Regions from separate parts of the Homo sapiens genome. Here region 2 is linked to region 1. The links come from fine-mapping of genetic effects on gene expression. Tissue or cell type: testis. Region 1 holds a variant in brackets; the other region holds the start of a gene. All regions are shown on one strand. Distances are from middle to middle.

Region 1 (15,641 bases):
TACTACATAATTAAAGCAACTTGCCAGGTTTTACATTAAAGTTAAAAATTGCTAACAGTTACCATAATAACCTGTAATAGAGACAATGAAAATAGATTTACATATAACATAAGTAAGGAAAGTAAAATATATTTTTAGTAAAAGATTATAAGAATGCATGAAAATGTAAATTTTTGCCTTGGGTTAAAGGATTGTTTTGAATTAGATAAGATAAAGCTGAAGGTTTAAACAATTGGTGAAAGGTTTGTAAAAATTAATCTTGCAAAAGAAATTGTGTGAACATATTGACTAATTTCAAAAAAGTATTTTGTTTTTGTAAATTGAGCATTGAAATAAAAGCACAACAAGGTTTTCTAAAGGCACTGATACGCTCTTTAACAACAATTTGTAAAGGGTTATAAAAGTTTAAAAAAATCTCACCTCATGGTCAACCTAGATAAGATTAGATATAATTGTCTATAAGTTTTCATTAAAAAAATTGGGGTTGACATCAGCAGTAGACTAATGCAAGGATGAAATTAGGCTTTCACTTGAACAGGATTTCCCTGTAAAATTAACGACAGATTGTTTGGAAAGCTAAGTTTTCCCTCTTACTGTGAATATGCTTTTGCGTTGTTTTAAAATGTTTGAGTCATCATTTTGGCTAAAATAAATGACATATGGTAACTTGGAATTCTATTTTATAATATCAAGTGCTTTGAACCTCTAACGTATTTAACAGGCTTCCCAAAATCAAACTTCAGTTTCAAAATTGTCTTTCCTGGTCCCTGGAACATCCAAAAGAGAAGAAAACTGGATTTTTTGAAATGTTTAGTTATATGGTATTTCCAAAGTTATATTTAATCTTCTTTAGGTTATATTTTAGTGAATAATATTAATATGTTTCAAAATTATATGAGATTTCTAAAATTCTAATGTCTGAGTATATGCTATCAATCATGATTAAGGTTATTATGTTTCGTTATTGTAAACCCTAGAAATAACTAAATTTCTTTGTCAATTGTATTCTTGACAGTAACTACCCTGGACATTTCATCTTTCACAGACAAATGACTTGTTTTGATCCTACTCAAAAGATGATTTATAATCAGCTATAGGATTTTGACAAGTGTTCTCAATGCAAGATTCCATTAACTCTGGAGATTATGACATTGAAAAAAATACAGTACTCATGAAGAACTGAAATGTTCATGAATATCAAGCAGAACAAGAGAACAGAATGGATTGAACTAATAGAAAACAAGTATTATTTTTAACCTTTTTGCTTAAAACTTTGGTGATCCTTGCTTTGTTTTTCTGAGTCAAGGATACTTATTTTGAACTATTTAAAGCCTTTAATAATTGAGTAAACTATATGCCTGTGAACAAAATTTGAAGGACGTTTGTTTCTCTCTGCCTGGCTTTGCCAGAATTTGGAAACTATTTGTGAGAATATTTAATTTATGGCAATACAGTTATTTTCATCAGTGCAATAAGAATACATTTTCTTTTGCAACAGGACACGATTGAAGAAACTGGTGGTTTTACCGAGGCTTTTACTGGAAGGGTATATGTTCCTTTAAGTAATTAAGCTGGACTTGCCAATAAAAGTCCCTTGGGAAAACTGGCTACATACCTTGTCAACACAGTCCTTGTACAAGGTTCCTAACCCGTGGGGAGTAAAGCATGTCACTTTTTAACAGGGCTAGGAGCCTGTTAAAAAGCTCCTGGGCCTGTTAAAAAGCTTGTTCTTGGGACATCAAGAAGAGAATGATTTACCAAACTCGTAGATATTTGAGGATGGAAACCCATGGCTGGGCTTGGCCTTAAAAGGTCTTAACTGAGATTCCTTATGGAACAGAGTTCCATCAAAGCCAATTTAAAATCCTATGGGAAAAATAATTATTCTTGTTGCACTTTATGCAAATAAGACAAGTATAAGGCTAAAGTTTATTTTTCAAACAACTGAGTCCTATCATGATTTGTTTTTGACAAAAATGAGGACTGGAGAGAGAGAAATTATGTTTCAAAACTTATTCTACATTTGTCATTACATTATAATCCCATTAGTTGTTTTTAAGTTTTTGCCTACTTTTTAGACTACCCTGCTTATTCCTGTTGGACCAACCAGCAATGTATGGCTGCAGCTCAAAAGAACCAAAGAGATGAGTAATATAAAAAATCTGGATCAATATTTTAATTCTGAACAATTATCCTGCAAATCCTTCCAGGTGATAGGAGTAAATACGTGCCCATAACCCAGAGGTTTCTTTGTTTGGGAAAATAAGACCAAGGGAGCTAATCAAAGCCAAGCCCCATGAATACAAACCTTAGCAGGCATAACTATAGCCACGAGTTATCTGGCTGTATTGGCAGCCTTGAGATTTTTGTTTTGTTTTGTTTTGAGCTGTCCTTATCCCTTTGTTTCATTTTGAATGTGTCCTCTAATAACCCAAATTGTTTCTTCTCACTTAAAGGCCATTCAATTTCAAATGGTGATGCAAACAGAACCACTCATGAACACACCGTTCTCTTTGGGGACCCTTAAACTGACCTCAGGAGGAGCCTTAACTGCCACTTTCCCAAAACAGCACCCCTTGTCGGCAGGAAGCAGTTAAGAGCAGTAGTTGTACACTTTCCCCAACAGAATTTGGGGTCTCCACTCCTGAAGGGAGGAATGAAAGGAGTCAGCCAACTTGCTTTAGGGAGACAGTCAGGAAAGGATCCCCTGGAGAACCTCCTACCCACCCCCTAGGTGCTTATACCAAATATTTTGTGCAGATAAGGGTACTTGCTAAGGGAGCTTGCCTAAACATGCCCATAGTGGAAAATTTCGTTCCTTAACATATGTGCATTAAGGGAAATAAATCAATATGGAGCGGCACAGACTAAGGGCCCACATAACTCACCGGAAAGATGGAGTGGAGCAACCAGGAATTCACGTCTCATACAACCAGGAATTCACAGCCCTATCAGCTTGTATAAAAATGTCCTTGTTGCCGGGTGCGGTAGCTCACACCTGTAATCCAAACACTTCGGGAGGCGGAGGCGGGCAGATCACTAGATCAGGAGTTGGAGACCACCAGCCTGACCAACATGGTAAATCCCATATCTACTAAAAATACAAAAATTATCCGGGCCTGGTGACGTGTGCCAGTAATCCCAGCTACTCAGGAGGCTGATGCAGGAGAATTGCTTGAACCTGGAGGGCAGAGGTTATAGTGAGCCGAGATCACGTCATTGCGCTCCAGCCTCGGCAACAGAGTGAGTTTCTGTCTCAAGAAAAAAAAAAAATGCCCTTGTATTCAACCATTAAGGGGGCAACCAAGAACTTGGCATCAGGACCCCTCTCTTTGCTGAGAGCTTTCCTTTCACTAAATAAATTCTACTACACTTACTCTTTGAGTGTCCATGTGCCTACTTCTTCAGAACTTAGGCCTAGCTGGGCTAAGGAGCAAAAAACCCTGCATCATATCTCAAACTCAACCTTTAAGTTTTTGTCCCACTAGTCTCCTTAACATTTTGCAATACATTAAAATTGCTTCAAGGTTTTTTCAAAATGTGTTTTTGGTAATTCTGCTAATTTATGCTGTTTAAAACATCCTGGCTGAATGATTTCAAATAAATTTTATAACATCTATTTCCATTTTTTTCCACTCAGTACATATGAATCCACTGTTTAATCCAAATTTAAAGTAACAATCATTAAAGTAAATTAAAATGGAGTCCAGGCCTGAAGAATTTCTGAGCAGACAAAAGCAGTTAGGCATCATAAGTGATCTAAACCTTGATTGATCTACAGATATAAGGGAAACTTGAGCTATTCTTATCAATTTCTATGTTAAAGAAAAACAGAACTTAAGTTCAACCAATCAGAAGTAGCCAACACACATAATCATATAACTGAAGACTTTCCAATGGGATAGACCTAGTAAGGTACAACTTTGGTACCAAATAAGGTACAAATAACTGTACAACTATAAATAGTCAAACATTACCTTTAGTTTTCTTCTGTGCCTGTCCTCTAAAAGCCTCCCCCTGTGCTCCCTCAGTGGAGCTCTTAAGCCACTTTTATGGTTTGGAGCTGCCTGAGTCATAAATCATTGTGTAAATAACATATTTAAAATTCTATTGTGCCTTAGTTTATCTTTTAACACAGTGGTCCTCAACCCTTGGTAATGAGCTATGGCTAGTTAGGAATCAGATCATACAGCAGGAGGTGAGCGGCAGGTGAGTGAGCATTACCACCTGAGCTCTGCCTTCTGTCGAATCAGCTACAGAATTAGATTCTTATAGTAATGTGAACCCTATTATGAACTGAGCATGCAAGGGATCTAGGTTGTGCATACCTCATGAGAATCTAATGCTCGATGATCTGAGGTAGAACAGTTTCATCCCTGTATTAGTCAGGGTTCTCCAGAGGGACAGAACTTATAAGATATATGTATATATGAAAAGGAGTTTATTAACGAGAATTGACTTATACAGTCACAAGGTGAAGTCCCATGATAGGCTGTCTGCAAGCTAAGGGGCAAGGAAGCCAACAAAGACTTAGTTCAACTACAAAAGCCTCAAAAGTAGGAAAGTTGGCAGTGCAACATTTAGTCTGTGGCCAAGGGCCTGAAAGCCCCTGGAAAACCACTGCTGTAAGTTCAAGTGTCCAAAGCCTAAAGAACCTGGAGTCTGATGTCGAAGGGCAGGAAGCATCCAGCACAGCAGAATGATGAAAGCCAGAAGACTTGTTAAGTCAGCTTATCCCACCTTCTTCCACCAGCTTTGTTCTAGCCAAGCTGACAGTCAATTGGATGGTGTCCACCCACGTTGAGGATGGGTCTTCCTCTCCCAGTCCGACTCAAATGTTAATCTCCTCCAGCAACACCCTCACTGACACACCCAGAAACTATTCTTTACCAATTATCTAGGCATCCTTCAATCCAATTAAGTTGACATCTATTATTAACCATTATAATCCTAAAACCATCCCCTGCTCCCCTGTCCATGGAAATATTGTCTTCCACAAAACCAGTCCCTGGTGCCACAAAGGTTGGGGACTGCATAGAACTCAATGAAATGAGAAGTAGTTTCTGATTCAACTAATGTCTGTTAAGTGATTCTCTCTATAGATCCAAGTATTATGAGCCACCTCACACAATCACATTCATGAGATTTCTATTACTCTGTGTATTGGACTTCAAGGAAGGAATGGAATGCCATCATTAGGCACCAAATACTTCCACTATTGATTAGCATTGAGATTTTTAGTAAATATTTAGGAGTACTGGGGGACGAAGGAGAGACAACACTATTTATTCTTGTACTAGAATACTCATTTTTAATGCCTATAATTAAATCAATAGGAAAGTTATTGAGAAAATCTGGGCATTTTGAGATAATTGAAGAGTAAGTATTCCATATGTATGTCAGTTGAAAATTATTTTTGCTATTTGCTTTTGAAAGAATATAATAATGTTAGCAAATGAGCAAGGTAATTCCTGGCTGAATTATATAATTATTTACAGTACTTCCAAAGATATTAATCTATTACCATTATATGTAATTCATGGGGAATTATATTAAACAATAGATAAAATATCAAGTTAATGTGTTTCAGGACATCACTCACAGCATAATGAAAAACTAACTTACTTCTGTATTTCAATAGCTTCAATACCCATTCAACATTACTGTGCATTACAAATCTATTGGTAAATTGCTTGCAAAAATAAGACTGAAAACAATTTTAAATTAAGTGTACAAATTTTTCTCTTTTTCTTTTGAAATAATTAATATTTTATTTTATTACCATAGTTTCCTTTAACTCTATAATTTGAACTGAGATGTTTGGAGAAAAAATATTTTTAAAAGAATTTATAACAATAAGAATAACTGTTAGAATGCCAGTCCTATCAGGAAATGTTAGAAATATATAAGCAAAACTCAAAAGTAAATATCACTGTCTGTCTAACCATATTCCATGCGTAGCTTCTACTACTGTTCCCCAGAATTGACTGTTTTATCATTTCTCTTGACTTTTGATACATTTATTCATATATCCTCCATCCTCACTTAGTCCTTACTGTTTATACTTCGGCATCATATCAACCCTATCTTGCCACTTAAAAGACAAAGTAATACTACTTTTTCAGTTTTTTTTTTTTCATTTAATGTAAGAAGTTCTCATTTCCCCAATAGTGAAACGATGCAAAATGATTATTTGATGTATTGTCCAAATGGGTTCAGGTTTGTGACAGTCTCAAACACATCAGGGAGTAGGGACACCCTTCAGTTAAAGCACAAAGTTGTTTTTTAATCTGTATTTTATTTTTAAAAAAGATTTTTTCTCAATATCACATAAACATTAAGCTCTTTATTTTACCTCTCTATTTACTTATTTACATGATTTAAGATTGAACATTTTTCATTATCAAAAATATTTTCATATGTGTAAAATTGTTGAAATCTTAATTTTTCCAAAATGACAGCTGACTCCTCTTAAAGGTAATGGGAATCTTAGAATGTTATTTGCAAATCAGTCTACAGCATTCTTTTCATATATAAAATGTGCACTAATTTTTGAAATATTTGTAAATTAAATAGGTCATTTTTCTTTCAGGAGAAAGGAGACTTTGAGAGATTTTTGTGCAGGAGAAGAGTAGTTTTAAAAATAGGTAGTTTGCAATAGGGCAGACTAGTTTTAAAACTCTAAAATGAGAACAAGTCAATAAGATTCTCTTGATTAAATCTAGTGATCTTATTTATTTATGAATTGACATATAATAATTGTACATACTCATGGGGTATAATTTGATACCTGGATACCTATCCATGTTGTACAATGATCCATTCAGAGTGAATCTATTATCTTACATATTTATCATTTCTTTGTGGTGAGAACATTCGAAGACAACTCTTCAAGCTATTTTGTAATATACGATATTTCACTGTTAACCATACTTGCTCTACATGCAACAGAACACCAGAATTTATTGCTCTTATCTAGTTGTAATTTTATACCATCAATCAAAGTTTCCTCATCCTTCTTTTCGTCCTCCCGTCTTTAGTCTCCAGTAACATTTTTCTACTCTCTGCTTCTATGATATTAACTTTTTTAAATGTTTGTATTTTCTTTTTTTTTTTTAGACTCCACTTATGAGTGAGATCATGCTGTACTTGTCTTTCTGTGTCTGGCTTATTTCACTTACCACGATGTCTTCTGGATTCATCCATATTGTCATAAATGGCAAGATTTTATTTTTTATGGCTAAAGAGTACTTCATTGTATACAGATCGCGCATTTTCTTTATGCATTCATCTGTTGCCAGACACTTAGGCTTATTCTGTATCTTGGCTATTATACATAGTGCTGCAATAAAAATGACTAGATGCATTGCAATTAGCTTTAAAAAGATGGAACAGCATTGTAAGGACAGACCATGAATCTAAGCCCTTAGGTTGAATACTTAGGTTGAATAAAATTGTTGGAGGAAGTGGATATTTGATGTACGTAATGAAAGGGATTCTTACTTGGCAGGTATTATTAGAAGAAAAAAAAAAGAGAGAGAGAAAGTTGAAGGAGAGGGGAAAACTGCCACAGCAGGTTAAGCAACTTGCTTTAAAATAATTGGGATTAGTAAGTGTGCAAAGATAGAACTGGTGATGAAAGAGTGAGACTGGAATTAGGAATTAAT[C/T]TGTAACATTAATGTTGCAGGTTGGGTCCTGGTTATGAGACTGAGCGGATGCTCATTCTTTGGAGCTATAACTCTGACCAGTGCCACATTAACAGATTTGGAAAATATGAGATTAACTATGAAGGTACAGAAAATAAAGGTGTTAAAATTATTTCTATATTTTAGATCTAATTGTTAATAATATAGTATATACACATACATACTATATTATATATATATTACATATATATAATAACATATATATGCAAAAAGCTATGGTAAATAGAAAACATTAGCTGGGCATGGTGGCTTATGCCTATAATCCCAGCACTTTGGGAGGTGGAGGCAGGAGGATACTTGAGCCCAGGGGTCTGAGACTAGCCTGGGTAATATGGCAAGACCATGTCTCTACAAAAAGTAAAGAAAAGTAGCTGGGCCTGGTGGCACACACCTGTCATCAAAGCTACTCTGGAGGCTGAAGTGTGAGGATCACTTGAATTCAAGAGGTCGAGGCTGTAGGGAGCTGTGTTCCAGCCCCTGCACTCCAGCCTGGGTGAGAGCACAAGACCCTGTCTAAAAAGAAGAAAAAGAAAAAAGAAACATTATTGAGGAGAAGAGATAAATAGAGTCTTAGAAATTTGAATTGATACATGAGTAAAGAATGACCCAATTATTTTATACTGGGAATGGGAAAATAAATTTTATACAAGTCCACAAAATAGTTTTTAAAGGATAGACAATATAATACAGGGGTTGGGGGCATGGTTACAACAATGTTAGAAACGCTGAAAGAGCAAAAGAGGCCTGCTACTCCAGATGATGAGCAAATGAAGGAAGCCACTTCCATCCTTAACTGTGAAAAATGAATAGGGGAAGGTGGTGCATTCTGGGTCCCATGATTCCAGACTGACCATTGGCCCTATTTGAGTGCAGCTGCTGTTAGGCAGAAACTCTGGACTCCAAACTCTCAGTAAAACTTCTGAAGACACTGCTGTTGCTATTGCAGCTGTCAGCACCATTGATTCAGCTGAGAAGCAGCCCAGAATTTCACACTGACACCCACGCTGTTGGTTGTGTTTTTTGAACCAGATTGAAATTAATATCTATTGTATGGTTCAATTGCTATGAAGTTCAATGTCAAGCAAATGTAATTTATAAAGATAAAAGTAAGAACAGTGGTTGCCTATAGTAATGATTGGAGGTTCACAATAGAGACTCCTGGATTCTAGTAATACTCAATTCATATTCATGTAGGTTGTGATGACATTCTAAAAATGTTTAAAGCTATATGCTTAAGATCTGTGTCTTTCACATGTGCATATCATATTTCATATTCCAATTAATAAATCAGTAAAAAAAGTTCCAGTTCAGGATACAATACTGTAGAACAATCCAAATTATTAATTTATTCCTAAAGTTTTTAAAATATTAGAATAAATACACAGCATTTTGTTAAAACAATATGGTAAACCTAAATGTAAAAAAAAAAAATTAAATTGAGTTAGGAGTTTCAAAAAGACATTTCATATGCCTTTTCAACTTTCAATTTCATATGAAAGTTGAAAAAACTTGAAATCAGTAAGTATGCATGTGTATGTAAAACAAAATTACTGCATATAAAAACTTCTTTGAGACATCTAGAAAATATTTAGCAGTGTGCCATAGTTTAGAGGCATTTTAAAATGCTTTTTAGTGGTACATAAAAAATTAATTAATGACAGTCTATGAAAAACAAGTAGAGCAGCTTGAAATAATTCACATATTTTTCACGTAAAACTTTTAGGAGAAGTCCAGTGATGTCACGATAGCTCTACAATGTTGATTTATTTTGTTGCTTTTATATGCTTATTTTATATATAAAATAGCTGAAAACAGCTATGAATTCTAAAGCATGGTAACAGGGGTAAAAGGTCACACACATTTCTTTTAGATGCTGCAAATATTGCTTCTGTTCACATGTTATGGTCCAAAAATTAGTTACATTGCCTCATCAAAGTGCAAGGAGGCTGGTAAATGTACTCTAATTTGCTAAATGCCTTGCAAGATATAGGGATGTATATTGAGAAGACAAAGAATGGAAGTGAGAATTACTTGTTATTTTGACTTCCAAGTATCGGAGAACATTCCCAAAGAAATATTATACTAAATTTCTGCCTGATTAATTATTTCAGCATCTCTTTCATGATCTTTGCTTAAGGGCAGTGCTGCCAGCTGAGGCTGCATAGAGTCTCATATTCCATAGACTAACTGTCTAGGGTAATTCAGACTTATAACCTAAGTTTATGTTACAACTTTTCTAACTTATGTTCCTTTGATGGAGTTTATCCTCATTGCCCCACCCCCCAACTGGTTTACTAATATAGTCTAAAACAGAAACATTATTCTTTTTATGTTCTTTAATCTCCATTGAAATAAACATAATTTGTAGAATTATTAACTAATAGAAATTAATTGAAAAGAAGCATCTTTCTTTTATATGAACAATGACACAGTTCATATTTATCTTGAAAACAGTTTTAAGCACAAGTAATTACCCTGAATATGTAAATAACCCATTTATAAGTAGGTCAATAGGGAAACCTTTCAACCAATTTCAAACATGGTATCATTTCTAGATCTTATGAAATAATGGAACATGTTTTGGAAGATAAGAGAAGTTTACTCAGCCAATAATAACAGGTCTCAATAAATTATTTTTTAACAGCTAGTTTATCCCTGGATATACCTTACTATATCCTATTTTTAGATATGGCATTTGAAAACCTCCAAGAATATAGAGATAATTTTAATTGAGCTATTATGGTTAGTATTTATTTTTAAAGTTCTGAATTTTCTTAAAAAATTCAATATTCTATGGTATATTAACAAGATTGATTGGAATAATGCATTTTTTTAATGTAGTGGGTTGGTGATATGTTTTTCTGCTGAGAAAGAAGGCTGTTCATAATCTTAAATTATATTAGGTTTTAGAAACAATGAAAATTGTGGGATTCCCTTAATGGCTTTCTTACACTTGAGTTCTAAAATATTTATCAATCTCAAATATATTTTACATTATGTTGAAAAATGACTATTAATAGTTTTTGCTGAAAAAAATTATCAACTTTTTGTGTATCACCATTTCAGAGTTGGGCTTATAAAAATATCAGTATCTGTCCTACATATATACCAATGTCTTTCAATTTTTAGTCAATTAAATATGTTTCATTGATTTTCTGCTGTGTGCCTAAAACTGTGCATGATGATATTATAGAAGGTACTGTGAAAAGGCTTAAAGCAGTATATTTAACCACTGCCTACCAGAGTAGTACATAGAGAAGCAAACCTAATCTATAAGCAACAATGAGAGCATGCTACAGATAACTTTTAATATTGTAAATATATATGATACGGATGATAAAATCTTTATGAAATAATCTATAGGAGAGGTGAAATGGGTCTCTGCCAGGAGAATGCAAAGGCAGTAAAAAATTAAAAACCAAAATATTGAGAATTATTTTGAGGAAAGTGTTAGTAGAATTTAATAATACATTTAATAGAAACATAAGATTAAAAATGCAAAGATGAATTCAAAGTTGCTTACATTCAAAAATAACTCATTAAATGTACAGTATTTTAAGCACACTTTTGATCTATGAAGAGTATAAATATGAATAAGACATAGTTCTTTATGCTAGACATAGAGAATATTTTTTGTACAGAAATAAAATCTAGAGTATGTAATATTAGGGGAAAGAAAATGCCTCATAGATGTCAATAAACCTTGTTCCCTCTATTTTTTTTTACTCATTTCATTTCCTGTAATAATTGTGGTAACAGTAATACTGAAACAATTAAACCTCCAACTCTTAAAACAATAAAAGTTATTGCTTGCTTAAATAATAGGAATGCTATTTGTGATTTCCCGCAGGGTCATTCAAAGATTCATTATTTTCCCATCTGTGGTTTTGCCATCCTCAATACATAGCTCTTGGGGGTTTTCTGTGGATTGTTTTAATGTTAGCCAACCAGAGAGAATAAAAAGAGTATTAAAAATTATTACTTGTGGGTCTATGTGACCCTGTAAGAAGGCTATATCACTACTATATACTTAGAACCTAAATTTCTATGCCAAAATATAGGCGAATATAGCAAATATTGTCCAAATTTACAGGGAAAGAGAAAATGAATTGTGTCTTCATCTTACAGTTTCTAATAAAATCCCCAACATTGAACTTAAATGACTCTCCAGTTGTTCATTAGGAGAATATGCTGTTGGTTGACTGCCAGCATACATTATCTCACCTTTTCTTTCTAAGATAGAACATATTCAATATATCCAAGGCTTCCAAGGCTTCAGTACTTCTCTAAGTTTACTGTCTCGTCTTCAGATTCAGGTATGATGTGATTACTCTAAGTATAGCCTGATTCTTTGCCAAAAATAAGAACAAAAATAAACATATGACCCAATTCAGCACAAAGGCAAATCAGGGCAAATTACCTTAAGAGTTTTTAAAATAAATGTTTCTCTTGGTGTCTCTTTCTTGGTCTTCTGGGTAGGGTTGTATCTGAATATGATGACCCTAAATGTCTGCAGACATTTTTGCAGCAATGTCAAGGGTAAAAGTGACACAGCCAATAGCAAAGAAGTGCCAGAAAATACGTAAGCAAACTGTGACCTCTTTTTACCTCTTGATTGACTTTTAGGTTAAATAATGAATGTACCTTATGCTTGAAAGAATTTGAAATAGTATTTGGCAGTGAAGAATTTACTCCTCCCATATTTTCATTCAAGAGAAATTTCCATGAGGAGGGTTGTTGGTGGGTTACCTCCAACTCAACCACTTCAGAGCTACTACAGTGATAATGCATGTTGAAGAAAAGAGTCAAACCGTGAAATATTTGAAGAGATTTATTCTGAGGCAAATATGAGTGACCTCGGCCTGTCACACAGCCCAGGAGATCCTGAGAACATGTGTCAAGGTTGTTGGGCTACAGCTTGGATTTATACATGTGAGGGAGACATAAGACATCAATCAGTACGCCTAAGATATACATTGGTAAAATCGGGAAAGGTGAGACAACTCAAAGCAGGTGGGGGTGGGGTGGGTGAAGGCTTCCAGGTTAAAGGTGAATTCGAAGATTTTCTGATTGGCATTTGAGAACTGGCTAAAATAATTTATCTAAAGACCGGAATCAATAGACAGGAGTGTACGGGTTAAGATAAGGTGTTTTAGAGACCGAGGTTCTTATGCAGATGAAGCTTGCAGGTAGCAGGCTTCACTGAGAATAGATTGTAAATGATTTTTATCAGACATAAAAAGGAAAAAGGACTTGGAATCAGGAAAAATCAGGAAAAAGACTTGGAAAGACAACGGGATTCTCTACAAAATGGAGATTTTCCCCACAGAAACAGCTTTGTAGGGCCATTTCAAAATATGTCAAAGAAATGTATTTTTTTGGTGAAATACTTTTTCTTTCAAGGCCTGCTATCTGTCATGTTGATATCTTATTGCTACGAAGAGTCTGTTTTGTCATTCTTAAGTCTCTACTTTAATGTTAACACTGTTCAGCTATGCATGAATTCCGAAAGGATGAAAGTAAATAACGAGGCATGTTCAACCACCCATTTCCATCATGGCCTCCATTACTGTTTCAGGTTTAGTTTAAAATGCCCTTGGCCAAGATAAAGGGCCCATTTAGTTGGTTAACGGACATTGAATTTTATTTTTGGTTTACATGCAGGTGCCATGCTCTCCTTAGGTTGCTCCCTGCCAATGCTGAGCAAGGAAGATATTACAGGGCTTTTCATTCTTGTCCCACGTGGACTCATCTAAAGGTCAAAATTCACTTTGGTGCTCTTTCACTGACAATTTCTCAGATCTGCACTCTTCTCTGAGGCTCCTCCTTTCCAATTATCTTTCATGCTCTCTCTTCTTTTGAGGTGCCAGGCTTGCATCATGATCTGGAGGCTCTTGCAGCCTCCTTTTGCTCTATCTTCTCTTTATTCTTCAAAGGCGTTTTCTCTGGTTACTGTATTATATGTGTAATTCCATCTTGGTGTCTGATTCTTGGGAAACCCAAACTGGCTTATAATTTTTCTTACTTTCAGTAAAAGCTTCTTTGCTGATGCATCATTCATTAATTCATTAAATGTATTGTGTTTTGTATGGGAAAACAATGATGCCAAAGTGTCTATAGCTATATAGTCTGATATGTGCTATAATAAGAATTTGGAAAAAGTATTATTGGTTCATAAAGGCAGAAATTTAGGAGGTTAGATACATTTAAAGTAAAATTTCATTAAAAAGTGTGAACTTAAATAGATTAAGATAACATGGGGTGTTTGTAAAATATATTAGTAAAATACAATGACATACCCAAAGTCCTGTTAAATCAAATTAAATATGGCCTGAGAAAAACGCCATACTTCTGTATTTCAGTCCTTGTGAATGAACTGCAACCTAACTCAATAGGTACACAAGACTAAAACCTAACTTAGGAGTATGCGCCTGTAACAATCGCTGAGTCTTGGCCAAGTCCAGCAGCCATACTTCAACTAGTCGCATACAGCTGAGTGTTCAAATAAGGCAAGTGCCAAGCCGTAATCAATCCAGCTGTTTCTGTACCTCACTTCTGATTTCTATACGTCACTTTACTTTGTATTGTCTATAAATTCATTCTGACCATGAGACACCGCTGGAGTCTCTCTGAATCTGCTGTGATTGTGGGGGCTTTCCAATTTATGAATCATTCATTACTCAATTAAACTGTAAATTTATTTTGGCTGAAGGTGTTTTTTTTTTTTTTTTTTTAGCAGTCCTCACCATAATGATCCATACACGTAAGTGTCTAATATAATCTTTCTAGCTTTCTTTTTTGGTTGTGTTTAGTCATACTGTTGCTGATTCAGCTTTGTACAAAATGTCGGAGCAAAATGACTATCAATAATATAGAGATCTGCAAGGATTCCCACACAGGTGAAATATGCATGGTGGAAAGAGGCAATTCTTAAGGCAAAGAGCCAAGCATGTACCAAACACCAATGCCCTTGCACACCAAAACTAAAGATTCTACAATTTGCCAAAGATAAGAATGTACCTTTCACGACAGCAAGGACCTCATATATTGTCTTATTATATATCCCTAAAATCTAGCACAGTGTTGAATAAGAGGAAGTAGAAATAATTTTGAGAAGGAATTAAACATGTATTTGTAGAAGTCAAGTCTTACCCATTGAAAAAATATCTCCCCCATATTTGTAATTCATTAAATTGTTTGGAAGGGAAAAGAAACTAAAGGGAATACTCCATAGAGAAAGTTGTTTCAGAAATTATGCAAATTTATTCTAATAACTAAGAAATAGTGAAAATGTATTAGAAAGGTTAGGTAGAGGCACATTTCAGATTTAGACTAAGGTGCAAATGGCTTTCTACTTAATGATAGAGAAAAGCGTAAATAAAAGTACATTGTATACATGAAATGGTTTTGTTTGAATTGGGTATAGAATATCAAATGAGAAATATATAATAAGGAATTGAATATATGGAAATACAGATATAGACGGCCAGAGCACCTACTTGTAGCTCTTGATAGCAGAATCATCAGTCAACTGAAAAGATATTTTAAGACCTCCAAGAATAAGTAGATAATTTCTCTTCTGTATTTTGTTAATGAAAGAAAACCAGGGTAATAACTGCTTGAATTTTCATCACTAGCATGTTTCCTACATACATAAACATAGTCAGTAGTGAGTATATTCACATATAAAGTAACAAAGAATTATAGCAAACCCCAACATCCAATCGGGAAAAATGTTTTAACTCTGTATATTCATTAAATTGTTCACAAACTGACATCTTTTAGCATATAATATGGTTTCCTTTAGCTTGTTAAAGAGAATGAACTCATGACTAAAACATAAGAACACCCAATGAAGCTCAACTGAATCAATTCAACTATGAAAAATAAAATGACTAGTGATCATCTCTTTATTATTATTGAAAGAATAACTTA
Region 2 (15,641 bases), 33 kb after region 1:
GCATATAAAGTCAGTCATTCACCATAAACCCAAGGCCTCAGATATACAAAAACACTCTTCACGGTAAGACTGTTTCCAGAACTCAGAAGCTAGCTAGTCCTAAAAACAAACCTTACCTTTGAATGTGCAGGGTTGAAGAAACCCTGGCCTGCTGAGTTAACACATTCTTCCCTAATCCATATTTATTGTCCCTGGACTAATCTCTCCTGTAGCAAAACAAGCATATTTTTCTGAGCATCTACATTGAGTACAGCATTTATATGACAGTAACAACAGTAATATTAACATGAATATGCCTAGCATTTTATGGACACAGTGTAGGGTAAAGATTGATTTTTAAAAATTACTAATGCATCCTACAAGGCCATTACATACACTTTAATATTTTGTACAAACCAAATTACTCATTCCTCCTCTCAATTTGCTTTTATTTTTACCTTTTGATAAATCTGTGCAGAACTATTTAGCATTGAAATTAGATAATGGTTAGCTAAATTCTGTTTTCTCAGGCCATTTATTATTCACCCAGATTACATTCTGAAGAGGCTTTAACTCAATATCTTAATACATTTGATTATCAATATAAGCATTATATAACTTCTCTACATAAGATAGTTGAATCTTACCAACAATACCAGTGTAATGTCATATTGCAGTATGGTCATGTTACAATTCAGTTTTATTACAGAAAAAGTTATTAAGAACGATAGAGCTATTTGTTACAGCTACTCAACATAATTGGTTCTTGTCTTTATACCGTACAGTACTATAAATAAGTATTATTACTACTCACCATGATTTGATTATTTCTGGGTTTCTAATGGGTTGTGGACTTAGCCAGTCACCCTGTCTCAGTTCACAGGCCCTAATTGACACTGGTCTCTACTATATGCTGTCATACACCAGGATACACTCCCTTCCTATAGACAAGACACAAGAATAAGAATAGTTTATATCTCTGCTACCTGTGCTACAGGATGTCTTATCCTTATCTATTCTTGGGGCAATGGCAATAATAATGAATTAATATAAATTATGAGTGACCTCAGAGATGGGGTCCCTAAGATTATATAAATGTGTCCTTCTGCATCTAAGAAGAACCATTGCCCTATGGTTATTTAGGCCTCCATCTGCGTTAAAGTGATAAAGTGATGCTATTGAGTCATAATACAAGCTCATTACCGGTGCTGGGTCCTAGCATTATCCATCATTAATTGTTGAGTCTACCTTACCCAGTTCACTAAAACTTCATCATTTTTTCCAGGTTGAATCCCATCCCTTCCTCTCTCATAGATGAGAATTCCCTCTAATCTATTTATTTTAGTTAATAAATCTTCTTTCCTTAAAAGCCATTCATGATTAAAAATGAATTCAGCTTTTCTCACAATGCCTAGATCAGCATCTATCTCCCTGAAGGTTTTTTTCTGTTTGTAGGCCAATGCTTAACCCAAGATGGTTGTTGTCATTGTGTACTAGACTTAACTGGAATGAGGAACCATATTTTACACTCCAGACTATTTGGTTCTCAGTATGAGGATAAAAATAAGAAAAAAACAAAACAACAAACAAACAACAACAAAAAACAAGAGTTCTCTACAATTTTCGAGAAACAGAAGAGGAAGAAATGTTTCTCAATTCATTTTATGAAGCAAGCATGACACTTAAACAGAATAAGACAAAGATGATAAAAAAAGAAAAGGAAAAAAAACAAACAAAACTTTAGACCAACATAACCTAGATGCAAATCTGCAAATCTACAAGTATACCCTAGATGCAAAATCCTCAATAACTTGAATACGACACTATGTAAAAAAGTGACACACATGACCAAGCCGTGTTTATTCCAGAAATGCAAGACAGTTTCAATATTTAAAAAAATCTAATAATATAGTTCACCATATTAATATTCTAAAATAGGAAAACACATGATCATTTCAATAAATGCAGGGGAAAAAGACAATATTCAACAGTTACTTGTGATAAAAATTCAGCAAACCAGAAATAGCAGAAAATTCCTTCATCTTGATAAAGAGCATACAAAAAAATCCATCATATTTAGCTGTGAAACACTGAATGTTTTCCACATGTATGCTCAGGAATAAAGCAAAAATGTTTGCTTTTATCACTCTTTTTCAACATAATACTTAGAGTTCTATCCAGTGTGTAAGGAAAAAAAGGGAGAATAAAATAAATGCAGATTGGAAAGAAATAAGTAAAACTGTTCCTATTTGTAAATAATATGATTATATATGTAGAAATTTATACAGCATTTAGGAGAGAGAAGGAATGTAGAAAAGGGAGAGGAAGGGGGAGGCAAAAACAAAGGGGAAGGAGAAAGTAAAGGAACAGTGGAAGGAGAAGCAGTGTCTCACAAAATTAAGAAGGATTTAGCAAGATCAGGACAAAACGTAAAAACAGGTTTCCTGATATTTTTAACTGCATTTCAATAGCTTTCCAAACATAAATATTTTTCAGGTAGTTGAATGCTTTGGTCAATTTCGAGAGTGATGGAAGGCTGTTTTAATGAATTTATAGTGGCCTTTTGTGTAGAGGATTTGCTGGTCTTTTCAAATGACCATAGTCCACATTGATGGGTTGATTGAATATGGAAACCATCTTGAACTCCCAAGATAAACGCCAATTAGTAATGATATATTTTACAAACACACATGCATGCACACACATACACACACAGACATGAGAGGATTTAATTGGATAATAGTTTGCTGAAGTTTTTGAAATCTAAATTCCTCATCTAAATACATATTTGTCTACAGGACATTTTCTTGTAATGTCTTTTTTAAGGTTTTGGTATGGGGATAATGGTAGACTAATAAAACATGTTGAAAAGTGTTTCCTCTTTTTTATTTCTTAAAGTTTTGTGTAAAGTATAAATTATATCTCCTTAAATATTAGTAAAATTTGTCAGTTAGTTTATCTAGGTGGGTATTAATAAATTTAAAACATATATATAGGGATGTTCATGTTATTGCTTTCTTTTTGAGTTTGCCTTAGTAGTTAGTCTCTTTTGAGGGATTTGTACATTTAATCTAAATTAACTAATTTACATTTATAAATTTCATCATGGTATTCATTTAGTTATCCTTAAACTGTTGTAGGACAATGGAAATGTTACTTCTATCATTCTTTTTTTTTTGTTTATTTGTTTTGAGACAGAGTCCCGTTCTGTCGCCCGGGCTTGAGTGCAGTGGCCTGATCTCCACTCACTGCAAATTCCACCTCCCAGCTTCAAGCAATTCTTGTGCCTCAGCCTCTCGAGTAGCTGGGAATATAGGCATGAGCCATCACGTTCGGCTAATTTTTGTATTTTTAGTAGAGACAGAGATTCACTATGTTGGCCAGGCTGGTCTGGAACTCCTGACCTCAAACGATCTGCCTGCCTTGGCCTCCCAAAGTGCTGGGATTACAGGCATGAGCCACCACCCCCAGCCACTTCTATCATTCTTAAAATTTGTAAATTATTTATTTCCTATTATTTTCTCCTTAGTCTGGCCAGAGATTTAACAATTTTATTGATCCCTTCAAAGATCTAAGTTTAGTTTAATTTACTTAGCTATATAATTTTTCTCCATTTAATGTTGTTTATTTCTTCATTAACCTTTATTATTTTCTTCCTTCTGATTGCTTCAGAATTAATTTGTTCTCATTTTTATAATAACAAGCTGGAAGCTTTCATCATAATTTCAAGGTAATTTTTCTTTTCTAATGCAAGCTCTTAATGGGATAGATTTTTCCCTAAACACAGAAATTTCCACATTTTGATATGTTACACTTTTTTAAATTTCTCTTACTTTTGGCTAGGTTCATGTTTAAATATACATATGTGCAAGAATATTTTCCCTTGATTTATATGGATTTAGAGGTTAAAAAAAGGCAAAAAAATTATTTTGGAAATTTCTAGGAGACTTAGTTCACCATAATTGTTACATAATTGTGCATATGTTGCAAGTAATGTATTAAGAAAAGTATTTATATCTGTATACATTTGGTCCTTAATGATGAAATTAATGCACAGTTGTCTAACTATAATAATTTCCTTATAATCACACTAGTTTTCCTTTGGTTCCACAAGATGATGAACCTCACTTTAGTGTGACCAAGCAAAATGAGGTACAAAAACAGTCCAATTAATGTGAAAATATCTCAAATTCATATGAATTTTTAAAATATTTTATATGTAAATTAAATTAGAAATTAAATATATAAAATATTTTATTTCAGAAATATTTGCTTGCCTTTTGGGAATCAAAGTTCAAAATCTTCTATTGTCATCTTTAAATAACTAATTTTTAAGTTAATTTCTACTTGGTTCTATGAAAATACTACCACACAATATGGACATAAAGAAAACATTTACAGAAAAATTGTCCATATGGACACATTTTAAACAGATGATCTAATTAGCATGGTAGCCACCAAACTGGTAAATAAACAGTTTTGTTGATTTGCTGCTTAATCAGCATCTATTCAGAATTCTGTAATATTGTTTAGTAAAACAGTTTATTTCAATCCATAAATGTATTTTATAAATTTATGCCTGGTAAACTTCCAGGTAAACCATCGAAATATTAACTGTTTTCTACAAGTGATGGTCTTTTTTTTTTTAAGCTACTTTCTATAGTGAATTGATGAGAGTTAATGAAGATTAAAATGCTTATTCTGTAATAAAAGCCAATGCTGGCATGCTGATATATAATCTCTATAGATCAAAAAATATTCATGCCTTATTCTCAGATTTTTAATAGTGGCACTAAGTGGTCTTAAAAATTTATTATTTAGACACCTTATCCTATATTTTAAAAACATTTTCTTAGTATACTGTGGATGTTATTATACAAGTCATATAATGGATAGAGAATTTCTTACGTAAATTTACAATATAATTTTTTTAAATAAAACTTTTGTGAAATTATTTTCAAATGTTATAAATGTTAATCAGTTTTGTTATATTGGTTCCAATATTTCTCATATATGGAAAATGTCATTTTCCCTGGGAATTAATATTTGGAGCTGGTGTTTAAGAAAAACCATGTTTGATGTTGGAAAATGCTATGTCCGGTATAACTATAGATGTTTGGAAAGCAGCTCAGTTATGCTAAAGATAAAGAAAGGAGAGAAAAATGACAGAAGGGGAGGTTTGAACAAAACAAAATAATACCTGAAAATGTTGAATGGATATGTAATATTTGTGAATGTTTATGTTCTCTATTTCACCATTATTTAAACATTTATATTTTCAAAGGGAGACAATAATTATATTTTGAAATCATTTTATTTTTTTACAGAGTGCTGCATTTTTTCTTTTCAATTTCAATTTGGTGAGCAAGCAAAATCGGTCAGAATATTATACATAATTAGGTTTCCTTTTTGAGATTTGTTGAAACTCTTTATCCTTTATGTATGTATTTCAAGTAGTATAATAAAAAAGAAATATAAAATGATTAGATATACATAAAAGTATTGTAGATTATGTTTTTGATATTTTCTTTCTTTTAATATATTTTGCAGATATAGCCATTCCAGATTATGATTTCACAAACTAAGATGATTCTCAGTAGGGAAGCGTTACTGCATGTCGTTTTCATCAAAGGGAGCTTAGTTTATTTGCCTGTCTGAATATTGACATTATATTACTAATTTACACATTGGGGAAAGGGTCAAGAGAACTCCAAATTTTTGTTGACTTGATATTAACCTGAAAGGGGAATGTTAATAACTGACAAAATATTTCCACAGTAGTTAGACATCAAGATAAAGTTGTGTTTTTTAATCTACTTCATATTGTTGAATTATTTAGATAGATAGATAGATAGATAGGATTGATTTATTAGATGTACAGGAAATAGAATTCACTGGTGGGCTGAGTAAAGAGGGGGCAGCTCTTTTCTAATGCAGGGCTAGCTGCTTGTCCAGGGGCCCATGATTCCAGGGCTATATCTAGCCCCACAGCCATCCAGGATGAGTTGTTTCTCAGCCACCAAGTCTTAAAATGTATATGCATTAAACTTAGTAAAATTGCACTTCTTTGAGATGTGGCTTTTTGGGCATTCACTGAACTTGAACTTGGCCCTAAATAAGTTCATCCTTGGTATGGATGAACATGGCCAATGTGAACTCTGACCTCTGGGTCCTGAGGCTTTCCAAAGGCATACTACATCCGGTCTTAAACCTAGACTAGGGAAAGCACTAGATCCGAGACATAAATGTCCAATGGCTGTTGTACACAAGGAACAGGCTGCTGTACACTACCTAGGATGCTGCTGTTTGCAGCCCTTGCACACCAGGCCCCATGAGAAAAAGAGCTGTGTGGCTTAATTGATTGTAGAAATTATTTTATATATTAAGTTTTTGGGGAGTAGTATCTTTTATTCAAGATAGCTAAATGTAATTTATATTAGACCATATACAGTAAGTTGTAAATTATAGAAGTTGTGCATATCAAAATCATACTCAGTGGGCAATATGGCCTTTAATATAATAAAGTTTATTGACAAAAATTAAAATAAAATCATGTGGTTTTGTAGTGCTCTTGTATGTTAACTAAAACAAATTAATAAAACCTATGAAACCCATAATCATTTAAACTATCTACTTACACTTTGGGAGGCCAAGGTGGGCAGATCACCTGAGGTCAGGAGTTCAAGACCAGCCTGGACAACATAATGACATCCCATCTTTACTAAAAACACAAAAATTAAACAGGCGTGGTGGTGCATGCCTGTAATTTCAGCTACTCAGGAAGCTGAGGCAGGGAGAACTGCTTGAACTCGGGAAGGGGAGGTTACGGTGAGCCAAGACTGGGCCACTGAACTGGGCGACAGAGGGAGACTCCATCTCAAAAAAAAAAAAAAAAAACCACAACAAAAAACTATCTACTTAAATACCATTTTATTAAAATAAATATTTTTCTGTGATCTTAGGTTTGTTTTGTCTCAACACTATAAATAGTGTATTGGTTGTCTCAAAGTGTTAAATAGAAGCATATTTTAGGGCATTGCTGAAATATCTACCAACTTTTCTTACTCTAAGTTATGCAATGGTGTATTGATTAATGCATTGGAACTTGTTAAGCAGTTTGTATGTCTGAAAAACCAAGGTTCAGAGGTATGTAGGTTAAATCCGGCAATCAAATATCACAGAGATATTTCAGAATATTATTTTTGTATACCAGAAAATACTTTTCAAAAAAAAAAAAAGTAAGGTCATTAGGAAGGCATTGTAAAGTTAATCTTTTCCAGCAAAGCTATTACATTTATTTTTCTGGAGCTCTTTAGTTATAAAAAGCAGAATGTAGTTATAGGATCTAGTCAGCATTAAATTGATTAAAAAAATGAAAAACACTTTCATCTTTAAATAGATTAACAATTAAGCATGTTGTTTATGTTGTCCCACTGATATACTAGAATATGCTACATTCTTTGGGGCATCTTTTAGACCATAGGGCTAAAATGTTGAGAATGACAGAGAGACAATTAGGAGCTCAGCACAAAGCAAAATGTTATGAATCAGGAAAATAAATAGAACAGAGATCAAAATTAGATAGATGCAGAATTGGAATGATACTGAAAACAAGAGATGGAACTGCAGAAAATACTATGGCAGATCATTCATTCCTTTGAATGGTGAAAGTAGTTAATACAACGGCTGACAATTGAAATGAAAAACCAGACCCAGATGAAAAAATGCAAACCAGTAAACTTGCCTAGTCCCATTATTTTACTCAATTGTAGGAAATACATGGAAAAAAAGTTGTTCATTATGGATCCTTTTTTCTAACGTAGGAAGAAGGCACCACTACATCTTTCTCATTTTTTTTACTCAAATGTTTGTGTTTTCTCATAGAACTTACAATTTTAATTTATCTTTCAATATATGTTGCCCGTACAGTCTAGTTAGATTCATAGTTGCAATGTTTCATGTGGTATATTTGCTCCCTATGGAATAGAACATAACATTAATCTCTAGATGTGTCACTAGAGAGATTTGTATATATCCACAAAAATCTACAGTTGCAACAAGAAAAATTATCCAGTGAAAATTTTGTGATATGAATGTCTTTCAACTTTTTAAAAAGTAAAGAGAAAATGATGAACAAATATGAGTTGGAAATCAGAATGAACAAATCGTGAAAATATAGTGTACCCCTTCAAAAAGTTTGAAAATTAAGAGAAATTGGTAGAACAGCTGTATTATCATTTACAAAAATGTTTCTCTACCTATAGAACAAACAATTACTTTGTCCTCTAATTTTCAAATAACTTACAGAACATTTATTTCCTACTGTCATTGGAATGGCAGGCTAGCAGGCTGAGTTCATAGCCCAATTGGTTCCTCACATCAAAAGATTCCCTTTATTATTTCCTTATTTTCTCTTTAATTCTGGCACTCCTTCATGATTGAACTTACAGATGTTCTTTTGTCTGCTAATCTTCGAGTAAGCCTGTGCTCTCTATAACTTTCAGTCTCAATTTCCTTCTACCATCAGCCTTTTGTCTAAACATTCTTATTCTGGTTTGTTTCCCTGAACTCTTGACATCAATCTCTGTTCCTTCAATATTATGTTTCTTCTACTGGAAGCAACAGATTTCCCAGATTTCACCCATTTTCCATTTTACTCTTCTCAATCTCTGTGTCTGAGTTAATTGCTTCCTTAGGTTTCTATGTAGGATTGTCTCTCCATCAGTAACTTTCCTATATCGCCCATGTTAACGTACCTATATCGTTTACTGAAAAATTTCTCCTTTAAAAAAAAATCAATGTGTTTGTTTACTTTCTTAAAATGCCCTCTTAAACTGCAAGGTCAAAGAAGGTAAGTATGATATTCGGATATTATATATCTACCACTTAATACAGAAAATATTCCAGCACTTGTATAGGTAGTATAAGACATAATTTTAGAACTCTAAAATAAAAACTCACAAATTGAAGTTAAATATCCATTTCCCACTGTTATCTCCTTTTCCTTTTAACACACTGATATCATTTGGATCTGTGTCCCCACCCAAATCTCAAGTCAAACTATAAGTCCCACTGTTGGAGGTGGGGCGTGTTGGGAGGCAATTGGATCATCTAGCGGTTTCTCTTAAATGGTTTAGCACCATCTCCTTGGTGCTGTTCTTGCGATAGTGAGTGAGTTATTGTGAGTCTGGTTGTTAAAAGTGTATAGCACCTCCCCACTTCTCACTCTTCTTCCTGCTTCCAGCCATGTGAAGTGCTGGCTCCCCCGTCACCTTCTGCCATGATTGTAAGCTTACTGAGGCCCACACCCAGGCAGCCCCAGAACCTGCTGGGTTCTGCTCTCTGCGACTACCAAGCCACCGGTGAAGAGAGCAGCCCACGGACACACAGGCAGACCTGTCCTCGACATCCCAAGAGCGCCACTTTTGGGGAGACTCACCCGCACACTGTCCGCGCACGCCTGAGGCTGGGATCCCGCGCTGTCTCCCCGGAGATCTGTCTGAGGTTTCTTCCTCCTGATGGACCCTCCGCGAATCCCGGCCTCCGGAGACCTTCCTGTTAACTGCCCTGGCCAGGACTGGTCTCAGCCCCGACTCTGACCAAGCTCACACAGGGTGCCTGCTTAGCCAAGTCTCAAGGACCCATCCCCGGGCAACGGTGGCGGTCACTGTGACCACAGCGGCGGCTCGGGCCTCGCGCATGCTCACTGGCGAGGCCGACTCACCCGCCCCACGCCCCCTTACTCCGCAGAGTCAGGCTGCAGACCCTTTAAAAAATGGCGGCGACATGGCGGCTGCGGGGACTGGGGTGGCGGTGCTGGAGGTTGCGGCGGGGACTGCGGCGCAGCCCGAGGCAGAGGGTGGGAAGAGGACTACCAGAGGGGCCTGCGGGAGACTCAGGGTCGGACCCATAGGAGTCCTGTCGTCAGGACCTCCTTGATCGGTCTCCTGCTTCTGTTCCCGGTGAAGGAGGACCTTCGGGGTGCTGGCTGGGCTGCGCGGACACCTCTTGGGATCCGATGATGGCTCCCACCGGCTGATCGGGAATGGGGTTACAATGCAGTGAGGCGGAAAGGGTCTCGCCGGGGCACGGAAAGATCCCCAAGGCCGCAAGGCGTGCTGTCGTCTGCAACGGCACTGACCCATGAGCCCACTGCCTCCCTCCTTCCTGGGTGGAGCAGGGGCCTGCCTTCATCTCCAAGGCCCGGGGGCTCCGGCATCCCGACGCAGCTTCCGGCGACATCGGCAAAGACAGAGGCGAGTCCGAGCTGGAGCCCGTGTGACCAAACGTGGCACTGACGTCCCCCAAGAGCACATGCAGAGAGCGTGTGTCTTTGAGGCCGTAGGGGGCGACGACGAGACGGACAGTGATGTCCAGGCGTGCGCCCGGGGGCCACTGGAGACCTGCCCCACAAAGCAGAGGAAAAGCCAAGCGCACCTGCAAACCTGCGAGACAGGGCCTGTGCGCGAGTCCAGGCCACATTCAGGGAGGCCCGCCAGAGGAGCCCAGAGCTTTGGACCAAGTACACCCCACCCCCACGCCGCTACCGCTTAGGTACCCCTGACGCAACCTCCCCTGCACCCAGCCAAAACCCAGTCCCGTTGGCTCCCTGACATCCGTGGCAGCCAAAAGATTCAGTGCCAGAAGGCGCTTTCCCCAGGAGCGGAGGGACCGGTTGGCCCTCAAGGATCAGACAGGAAGTGCAGGTGGGATGCAACACCGCCTTTCCTGGAAGGCCAATGTGGGGAACGGTGGGCTTGCCTCCCCCTCTTCCTGGACCGAGCGCGCAGCCATCACTTGGGCCATGGAGACCAAGAGAGCTTCCCTGTCCCACACAGGTATGGAAGCCCAGAGCTCCAGGATCACCACACCTGCCCAATCATCCAGAAAGAGGTGTGGAGAGGGAAACGATCATGACACGGACGCCCACGGGGTTTCTCCCTGATGGACTGGGAAGTCTTCTTTGTTGAAGACGTTGAGCCAGAATAAGAAGCCGCCAGGCTTCTCAGAGACGGGGCAGACACAGCAAGAGGGAGGACAGAGCAGAGGCCAGAGTCCAGGCAGGATACGGGGCCATGCCACCACCACGGGCATCCGGAGAGGAGTGTCAGACGGGTGACTCGGCCAGGAAGGCCAGCCTTTGAGTGACAGAGATGCTTGCCCCATCCCCTTGCCGGCTTCCTTCTCCGTCCCTGCGTCGATCTGTGGCTCCATTTCTCCATGAGGGAGAGGGCGAGAGGCGTGAGAACCATCTTCTTGAAGGTCTGCGGGCACCCTCCTGCGGGTGGACAATGAGCGCCTGGGAGGCCGTTGTCCTTGCTTGGGGAGCGGTCGTCTGGATCTAGCCTAGCAAAGAGGCTGCTCCGGATGGGGAGGGGACGAAAACCCCTGCGGTTCCGAAGCAGATGCCGGCGTTGCCCAGGCCCTCACAGACCCCCAAACCGGAACCGCCGGGAAACCGACTGCTAACCGGCCACACGACCGAGGCAGAGACGCGGGGAGAGGCTGACCAGAAGAAAGGCCGACCTGCAAGAAACCCACCCTCCGGCACACGAGGCACATGTGTCCCGAGGCACAAGCACACACAGACGGACAGAGATAGAAAGAGAGGGCGACGGAAAGAGCGAGGGGGGGGGGAGAGAGAGAGAGAGACAAGAGATAGACAGAAGTGGGCACACGGACGCCACGCACGCACGCACACAGACACACACACACACACAAACACACACACACACACACACACAACCAAGACGCAAACAGACATACAGCAGGTAACACCCACCCCCAGGCTGCCCCTGAAGCTGTCGGGTTCTGCTCTCCGCGACTACGAGGCCACCGGTGAGACAGCAGCCCACGGACACCCTGGCAGACCTGTCCTCCACATCACAAGGGCGCCACTTTTGGGGAGACTCACCCGCACACCGTCCGTGCACGCCTGAGGCTGGAATCCCGCGCTGCGGCCCCGGCGATCTGTCTGAGGTTTCTTCCTCCTGGCGGACCCTCCGCGAATCCCGGCCTCCGGAGACCGTCCTGGTAACTGCCCTGGCCAGGACTGGTCTCAGCCCCGACTCTGACGCACAATCACACAGGGCTCCTACTTCGCCAATTCTCAGGGACCCATCCCCGGGCAACGGTGGCAGTCACTGTGACCAAAGCGGCGGCTGGGGCCTCGCGCATGCGCACTGGCGAGGCCGACTCACCCGCCCCACCCCTCCTTACTCAGCAGAGTCAGGCTGCGGACCCTTTAAAAAACGGCGGTGACGCGGCGGCTGCGGGGACTGGGGCGGCGGTGCTGGAGGTTGCGGCGGCGGCGGCTGCGGCGCAGCCCGAGGCGGCGGGTGGGAAGAGGTCTACCAGAGGGGCCTGCGGGAGACCCAGGGTCGGACCCATAGGAGTCCTGTCGTCAGGACCTCCTTGATCGGTCTCCTGATTCTGTTCCCGGTGAAGGAGGACCTTCGGGGTGCTGGCTGGGCTGCGCGGACTCCTCTTGGGATCCGATGATGGCTCCCACCGGCTGATCGGGAATGGGGTTACAATGCAGTGAGGCGGAAAGGGTCTCGCCGGGGCAAGGAAAGATCCCCAGGGCCGCAAGGCGTGCTGTCGTCTGCAACGGCACGGACCCATGAGTCCACTGCCTCCCTCCTTCCTGGGTGGAGCAGGGGCCTGCCTTCATCTTCAAGGCCCGGGCGCTCCGGCATCCCGACGCAGCTTCCGGCGACACCGGCAAAGGCAGACAGAGGCGAGTCCGAGCTGGAGCCCGTGTGACCAAACGTGGCACTGACGTCCCCCAAGAGCACATGCAGTGAGCGTGTGTCTTTGAGGCCGTAGGGGGCGACTACGAGACGGACAGTGATGTCCAGGCGTGCGCCCGGGGGCCACTGGAGACCTGCCCCACAAAGCGGAGGAAAAGCCAAGCGCACCTGCAAACCTGCGAGACAGGGCCTGTGCGCGAGTCCAGGCCACATTCAGGGAGGCCCGCCAGAGGAGCCCAGAGCTTTGGACCAAGTACACCCCACCCCCACGCCGCTACCGCTTAGGTACCCCTGACGCAACCTCCGCTGCACCCAGCCAAAACCCAGTCCCGTTGGCTCCCTGACATCCGTGGCAGCCAAAAGATTCAGTGCCAGAAGGCGCTTTCCCCAGGAGCGGAGGAACCGGTTGGCCCTCAAGGATCAGACAGGAAGTGCAGGTGGGCTGCAACACCGCCTTTCCTGGAAGGCCAATGTGGGGAACGGTGGGCTTGTCTCCCCCTCTTCCTGGACCGAGCGCGCAGCCATCACTTGGGCCATGGAGACCAAGAGAGCTTCCCTGTCCCACACAGGTATGGAAGCCCAGAGCTCCAGGATCACCACACCTGCCCAATCATCCAGAAAGTGGTGTGGAGAGGGAAACGATCACGACACGGACGCCCACGGGGTTTCTCCCTGATGGACAGGGAAGTCTTCTTTGTTGAAGACGTTGAGCCAGACTAAGAAGCCGCCAGGCTTCTCAGAGACGGGGCAGACACAGCAAGAGGGAGGACAGAGCAGAGGCCAGAGTCCAGGCAGGATACGGGGCCATGCCACCACCACGGGCATCCGGGGAGGAGTGTCAGACGGGTGACTCGGCCAGGAAGGCCAGCCTTTGAGTGACAGAGATGCTTGCCCCATCCCCTTGCCGGCTTCCTTCTCCGTCCCTGCGTCGAGCTGTGGCTCCATTTCTCCATGAGGGAGAGGGCGAGAGGCGTGAGAACCATCCTCTTGAAGGTCTGCGGGCACCCTCCTGCGGGTGGACAATGAGCGCCTGGGAGGCCGTTGTCCTTGCTTGGGGAGCGGTCGTCTGGATCTAGCCTAGCAAAGAGGCTGCTCCGGATGGGGAGGGGACGAAAACCCCTGCGGTTCCGAAGCAGATGCCGGCATTGCCCAGGCCCTCACAGACCCCCAAACCGGAACCGCCGGGAAACCGACTACTAACCGGCTACACGACCGAGGCAGAGACGCGGGGAGAGGCTGACCAGAAGAAAGGCCGACCTGCAAGAAACCCACCCTCCGGCACACGGGGCACATGTGTCCCGAGGCACAAGCACACACAGACGGACAGAGATAGAAAGAGAGGGCGACGGAAAGAGCGAGGGGGGGGAGAGAGAGAGAGAGACGTAAGAGATAGACAGAAGTGGGCACACGGACGCCACGCACGCACGCACACAGACACACACACACACACACACACACACACACACACACACACAACCAAGACGCACACAGACATACAGCAGGTAACACCCACCCCCAGGCTGCCCCTGAAGCTGCCGGGTTCTGCTCTCCGCGACTACGAGGCCACCGGTGAGACAGCAGCCCACGGACACCCTGGCAGACCTGTCCTCCACATCACAAGGGCGCTACTTTTGGGGAGACTCACCCGCACACCGTCCGTGCACGCCTGAGGCTGGGATCCCGCGCTGCGTCCCCGGCGATCTATCTGAGGTTTCTTCCTCCTGGCGGACCCTCCGCGAATCCCGGCCTCCGGAGACCGTCCTGGTAACTGCCCTGGCCAGGACTGGTCTCAGCCCCGACTCTGACGCAGAATCACAAAGGGCTCCTACTTCGCCAATTCTCAGGGACCCATCCCCGGGCAACGGTGGCGGTCACTGTGACCAAAGCGGCGGCTGGGGCCTCGCGCATGCGCACTGGCGAGGCCGACTCACCCGCCCCACCCCTCCTTACTCAGCAGAGTCAGGCTGCGGACCCTTTAAAAAATGGCGGTGACGCGGCGGCTGCGGGGACTAGGGTGGTGGTGCTGGAGGTTGCGGCGGCGGCGGCTGCGGCGCAGCCCGAGGCGGCGGGTGGGAAGAGGTCTACCAGAGGGGCCTGCGGGAGACCCAGGGTCGGACCCATAGGAGTCCTGTCGTCAGGACCTCCTTGATCGGTCTCCTGCTTCTGTTCCCGGTGAAGGAGGACCTTCGGGGTGCTGGCTGGGCTGCGCGGACTCCTCTTGGGATCCGATGATGGCTCCCACCGGCTGATCGGGAATGGGGTTACAATGCAGTGAGGCGGAAAGGGTCTCGCCGGGGCACGGAAAGATCCCCAGGGCCGCAAGGCTTGCTGTCGTCTGCAACGGCACTGACCCATGAGCCCACTGCCTCCCTCCATCCTGGGTGGAGCAGGGGCCTGCCTTCATCTCCAAAGCCCGGGGGCTCCGGCATCCCGACGCAGCTTCCGGCGACACCGGCAAAGACAGACAGAGGCGAGTCCGAGCTGGAGCCCGTGTGACCAAACGTGGCACTGACGTCCCCCAAGAGCACATGCAGAGAGCGTGTGTCTTTGAGGCCGTAGGGGGCGACGACGAGACGGACAGTGATGTCCAGGCGTGCGCCCGGGGGCCACTGGAGACCTGCCCCACAAAGCGGAGGAAAAGCCAAGCGCACCTGCAAACCTGCGAGACAGGGCCTGTGCGCGAGTCCAGGCCACATTCAGGGAGGCCCGCCAGAGGAGCCCAGAGCTTTGGACCAAGTACACCCCACCCCCACGCCGCTACCGCTTAGGTACCCCTTACGCAACCTCCCCTGCACCCAGCCAAAACCCAGTCCCGTTGGCTCCCTGACATCCGTGGCAGCCAAAAGATTCAGTGCCAGAAGGCGCTTTCCCCAGGAGCGGAGGAACCGGTTGGCCCTCAAGGATCAGACA

Alleles and levels. Alleles are on the strand shown, and positions count from the first base shown. SD is a standard deviation of normalised expression in the study named.
As copies of T replace C in region 1, the expression in testis of the gene that starts at base 9,648 in region 2 goes down (small effect, 0.23 SD a copy in GTEx).

The links. PIP is the estimated chance that this variant, and not a neighbour inherited with it, causes the effect. A credible set is the group of variants that fine-mapping cannot tell apart.
Region 2: it holds the start of SNHG27, and the variant in region 1 is the best candidate, but not a certain one, in a credible set for the expression of SNHG27 in testis (GTEx, PIP 0.67).

Annotation. Positions count from the first base shown.
Region 1 is chr4:131,791,505-131,807,145 of GRCh38, reverse strand. LOC105377425 (a long non-coding RNA gene) reads right to left here and starts at 2,969. Exons shown (of 5, transcript XR_007058477.1): 1 at 2,889-2,969; 2 at 2,534-2,644. The variant C/T (reference allele first, on the strand shown) is at 7,668.
Region 2 is chr4:131,758,845-131,774,485 of GRCh38, reverse strand. SNHG27 (small nucleolar RNA host gene 27) reads right to left here and starts at 9,648. Exons shown (of 3, transcript NR_125884.1): 1 at 9,419-9,648; 2 at 794-920. It also overlaps the pseudogene LOC124900177.